2 separate regions of the Homo sapiens genome follow, and region 1 is linked to region 2. A link means that fine-mapping ties the variant in region 2 to the expression of a gene that starts in the linked region. Tissue or cell type: tibial nerve. Region 2 holds a variant in brackets; the other region holds the start of a gene. All regions are shown on one strand. Distances are between the middles of the regions.

Evidence for each region. PIP is the estimated chance that this variant, and not a neighbour inherited with it, causes the effect.
Region 1: it holds the start of RYR3, and the variant in region 2 is fine-mapped to the expression of RYR3 in tibial nerve (GTEx, PIP above 0.99).

The regions. Positions count from the first base shown.
Region 1 is chr15:33,309,282-33,312,038 of GRCh38, forward strand. RYR3 (ryanodine receptor 3) reads left to right here and starts at 1,686. Exons shown (of 104, transcript NM_001036.6): 1 at 1,686-1,815. The coding sequence starts at 1,765. It overlaps RYR3-DT (RYR3 divergent transcript), which reads right to left and starts at 1,378. Exons shown (of 3, transcript NR_120327.1): 1 at 1,297-1,378. RefSeq lists enhancers at 1,907-2,418, 2,419-2,757.
Region 2 is chr15:33,499,846-33,502,602 of GRCh38, forward strand. The region is part of intron 2 of RYR3 (ryanodine receptor 3); the gene reads left to right. Among named protein-coding and RNA genes, the nearest start is that of RYR3, 190 kb to the left of the region's middle. The variant G/T (reference allele first, on the strand shown) is at 1,133.

The sequences.
Region 1 (2,757 bases), 190 kb before region 2:
ACAATTCAGGAAGAAGACCACCTGGAATGCTCATATGGCCATCAAAGATGACATAGGCTCTGGAAACTATACTACAGGGAAAGTTGGGGCTAAGAAGAACCTTGAGCCAGGAGAAGAAAAGAGTGGATGGTGGGCCATAGAGGCAAGCATGGCAGATGCCTTCTAAGAGGTGAAGGGCCACAATGTACAGATGGTTTGACTTATTCTAGGCGGGTTTCAGAAGAGGCACAAGGCCCAAGCTGAAGCCTAGAAGGTAGCAGTTTGAGTACAATACAAGAAAAAAACATTTTTCTTTGCATTTCTGATGTTCATCAGAACATATGGGACGGAAGCTCAGGAAAGAGATCTTAAGGTAGCATCAAGAGATAGATGTCGTCCACAAGGAGGCGGTATATGAAGCTGTGAAATGGCTTGGGGTTTCCAGTGTCTTCCACCATCATCAGCCCAGAATTACCACCTTCCCAGTTGCACTTCCTCCTAAATCTACATCTCTGGTGCCTTTTGCCTTGAACAGTCTCTTGCCTTGGAGCTTCTCGGCCATCAAACAGAAGGGGGCACCCTGCACCGTCAGTCAAGGCAAGGACCAATCTGGCAATCCCCAACCATGGAAAAGGACCTAAGGCTGGGTGGGATGTAGGAGCCTTCCAGGACCTGGAAGGGAGCCTCCTGTAACTACTCTCTACTCCCTTTAGAGTCCACAGGGCTGGAACTCTAAATGCAGAATAAGGTTAGGGGTGGGCAGAGAGGAAGGGTTGTGATGCCACCTGACTTCCAAATTGAGGGTGGCACAGGATCCCCCAGAAGCTCCCTGGGGTACAGAAGTCACAGCAACCCTGGACAATCCAGGGGTTTGGTAAAGTGTACTTACCAATTTTGAAGAGGGGAAGGGGTTCTCTTAAGGTGTAGAAAGGACTATCCAGGGAGTTGCAAACTTTGTTGTAAGTGGACAATCACCCTCGCTCCTCACTGCACCGTCTTCTCCTTGCCCAACAATGCACGCGGGTCCTAGCAAGGTATTCGAGTCCAGATCTCTCTCTCTCTCTCTCTCTCTCTCTCTGTCTCTGTCTCTCTCTCTTTCCTCTCTCTGTCTCTCTGTCTCTGTCTCTCTCTTTCCTCTCTCTCTCTCTCTGTCTCTGTCTCTCTCTTTCCTCTCTCTCTCTCTCTATCTCTGTCACACACACACACACACACACACACACACACACACACACACAGGCAAAGTGGGCAAAGCGGGCAAAGCGAGCAAAGCGAGAGGGTTGGTACCCAGTCTGGGCGCGCTGGAGCTAAGCAACTGGCCTTTGTTTGTGAATTGGAGCAGTTTAGGGGACATCCTCCGGTCGCCGCGGGGCGCGCGCCTCCGCTGAGTGTGCGGTGCGGTACCCAGCGGTGCGGGGGAGGCTCCACCGCGCCAGCCCAGGGCCCCCGCACCGCCCCCGCCAGCTCGACGCGCCCAGCGTTGCGCTCTCCACGGAGCGGGCGGCCGCAGCGCACTTGGCTGGGGCGAGAGGCGAGAGGGGTGGGCGGACTGCTTGGTTGGCGTTGGCGCTCTGCAGTGCAGTGGAGTGTTAGCCCAGCTCCCTATATGGTCGGGGATTAGCTTGGCGCTGCTGAGGCTGAGGCTGAGCCAGGAGCTGGAGGAGGAGGTGGAGGACGAGGACGAAAAGGAGGAGGAGAAAGAGCGCAGCAGCAGTCAGCGCACGCCGAGCGGCTGCCGGGGGAAGCAGAGGCGCCGGAGGCTGGGGCACCGCCGACGCCTCGGGAGCCATGGCCGAAGGGGGAGAAGGAGGCGAGGACGAGATCCAGTTTCTGAGGACTGTGAGTCTCCGCGGCGGGGGCGAGGCCGTGGGCAGGTGGGGAGGAGCGCGGAGCGCGGCGAGGAGGGGCTGGCTGCGCTGCGCCGCGGTGCCGGGTGCCCGGTGCCGGGCGCTTTCTCCGCACCCGCGGGCTGCAGAGGCGGACCGGCCACCTACCCGCGGGGCCGCGAGGGGCTGCGTGGGAAGGGGCACCATCTCCTGCCTCTCCCTTGTTCCCCTACCGCCACCCCTGCCCCAGGCCCTCCACCTAGGACCGCTCGCTCTCCAGGCAACTTGCTACTTGGTCTGAAACCCTTGATGCCCAAACTTCAGCCGGGGTTTGTTCGCGGTTGTCCTGACCCATAAGATCGGCGTTGGAAGCCCTCGCCCCGGGGTCGGCCCTCTGACACCTCCATACTCCACCCCAGCCCCATTCCTCTTCCAGGGCGCCCCCACGCACAGGGGAACCTCCGGGAAGGAGCCAGCGGGGCAGGGGGGAGTGTGGGGAGCCGGGTCGGAGAAGCGGGCGCAGGCGCTTGGTCCTAGCCCTGGGATCGCTCGGAGGGGAATTCACCCAGCGCTGCCCCTCTCGTGTTAAGCCCCACGCCGGCAACTGCTGCTGGAGCCTGACTTGACTGACTGCCTGTCGTGTGTTCGAGAGCTGTGGCTTCTGCTCCTGGCTCCCGCGAGCCCCGCAGGACAGGGAAACCCCAGTCAGTGGCTCCGCGTCACTCAGGTCCCCTCCTTGACACCTGAGGGCGCTGCTCCGTCCCAGATTTGGGGGTGAGGGGGCGAAGTCTGTTGCAGCCACACCAGCCTTGCCCTGTAGGAGATAATACAAAGACTTTCAGGGTGGACGGCCACCCGGAGGGGTGGGGGCATTGGGGATGCATCCTAGCGCTGACTTCAGCCAAGTGACCTTGAGCAAGTCGCATAATCCGCCCTACTCAGCCTCAGTTTCCTC
Region 2 (2,757 bases):
GAGCCATTGACACACCTACAAGGTGTATCACTGAGGCATGACTGTGTATGAACCAGATGGATTAACAGAGAAGAGACAGGGGCTCGTGACCACGGGGAGAAGAAAGACGTGTTGAATAACAGGCAGGAGACTTGAGGAGTCATTGCAATCTGTCTACAGCCACAGCCATAATCAGCACCACACTCCTGGATGATAGTCTTGAAGGACACAGGATCTGTTCAAGAAGACTTGAGTTGGGTGCTTACTATTCTATGTACTTGGGATACCAACAATAGAATAAGGCACAGATTCTTTCAAGGGACCCACAGTCTGGTGAAACAGACAAACCTCAATGCATCAAGAACGATATAAGCCAAAACAGACTGCAGTTAACAGTACAACGGAGAGAGGTGATGGTCTTCCTTTGTGTAATTAACTCCCTACCTCATTTCCCTGAGGGCTTGGCTAGTGTATGCTAGCACAGTGCGAAGTGAATGTTGTGGATTGCCAGATAGAGAAATGCTAAATGACTACAAAACAGGGGCAGCAGATTCCTACTAGCCAGGATTCAATAAGCCCCAGAAAAATATGCCATTATATAGATTTATGGAGCATGGAGGATATATAGACCTTGCCTCCTACTGTTTTCCACATAGTGAGGCTAAGTGAATCCTAGTTCCTGGCTTATCCAGGGCCCTGGCCTCTCAAGGTTTCCTGTAGGACATTTGGAAATGTAGTGCTTCTCTAGGTTCAGGGCAGGGCTTGGGGAGAGTGATGAGGAGCTATTTCAGAACAGATGTCAACAGAGCCCTTCTCTCCATGCTGAGAGTCATCAAACACTTGCCCCGTGCCTGCCAGGTAGAGTGACTGAGGCCACAGGTTCCACAGCACAGACACAATGAGCTGGCCTCCTAGGGGACTCTCATGGCTACAAACAAATTAGCTTTAATGGACGAGTGGCCTTTGCTCATTCATCAGGAGTGTGGAGGTGGGAGTTCAGGCCAGTTTGGAGTTTAATTAAGGATGGCAGCTGGCATAGCAGGTCAGATGGCTCTGTGCTCCATTCATGTCACAAGTTTTTCGTTGTTTTGTTTTTCTCCAGACATTCCAGTTGCTCTGTTCCCTCCCTTACCACTGCCCACACATTGTTTTG[G/T]GTGCTGTTGGAGTGGCATGCTCTTATTTCCAAGTACAGAGAGTCCAGGCAGGGACCACACACCAGAGGTACAGAAACTAAGCTGCCAGGAAACTCTGTAAACTAGTGGCAGGTACAGTGCTCCCATTTGAGAGGCTTCCTCTCCATGCACACTATTGTCCTGTTTAAATATACCCATTCAAACCAGTAATGAAATTGTGAGCACCTGGGGACTTTCAATACCTGGACTGAAAGGACAGCTATAATCATAGCATGCCTAGTGTCCCTATTATCTATTAGTGCTTCTCCTTCAAAATGGCTGATGGCAGAGACAAGGAGAGCTCCTGTCTCCTGTCTCAAACCAGACACAGGAAGGAAAGCAAGCTGACTTAGAATTACATGATGTCATGTAAGGGCAGAATCTTTAGCATTTGGAGCTATGAGGGTTTCTGTCTTAAAGAGAATAGACTGAATATGTTATTGTAAAAGTGGGCATTAATGTTGTGACCATTTAATTTGCCAAATTAAACTTTAAAGCAGACTTTAAAGGGCCAACCATAACTGCAGACATTCTTCAATGGGAAATCTCCAAATCATTCATTCTGATGAATTGGAAGAGGAAGAAACAAGCAAACTATGGCTTTTATGCTTCCTGTTCTGGGAACATGAAATTCAGGTAGGCAGAGTGGTAGAAAAATCTCTATAAAATCTCCTGAGATGGCATCATATTTTGGAAGGCTAAGTTAGACAATATATGTTTATGGTATAAGGTCTTAAGGAAATGCTTTATCATATAATTGTATGCTATTTGTAATAATGCTGTATGTACTGTACAAACATTTCCTGGACATGAAGCTCTGCCCTGCATCACCAGCTGCCTGCTTGCTCAAGTCCCATACAAATAAGTTAATTACCTGCTTTGGGAACAGACTTTGAAAACAAAGGGAGCAACACAAAATAAAGGCGGTAATCCTCCTCTGTTACAATCTCTTCTTAGTTAATGGTTTTAATAAAAAAGGATTGGGCAAATTCCTGTATTGCCAGAATTCTAAGACTAGGTTTTTAGGATTTCTCAGCATAGAGACCTTGAGTAGAAAAGTATTTAAGTAGAAAAGTACTCCCTCAAATCCTTAGTAGAAAAGTACTTGAAAATGTACGTCACCCAGAGCCAGTAGCCTTTGGAATAGGATTGTCCATTACTGGCTTAAAACTTTAATAAAGGAAAATTGTAGGCAGGTCCAGCAGGCCGATTATCTTATTTTTGAGAATGTTGCAGTTGGGAGGGGAGGAAGAATAAACACTCAGAAATTAAAGGGAACTTAAAGATGGTCAATTCCATTATTTTTATTTTAAAACTAAATGCTGAAGTTAGAGAGGTTGTCGGAGCCTTAGTAACAGACTTGGTTTAGCTTTTAAAGTGGAGCTCCATGGAAACAGCTTTACCTGTTTTGAAGTGTTAGGCATGGCTGTCGGTAGTTTCTGGCCCTCATTCCTCATTCCTGTTGTTCTCATGGTATTGATGTTCTGCCAATATCATGTAGGAAACAAAGGATTGGTACACAGGTGATCACAAGCTGTATTCTCAAGGAAAATGGTGTGTCATTGAAATGGGATTGTAAACTCCAGAAAGGCAGTGGTTTTGCTTT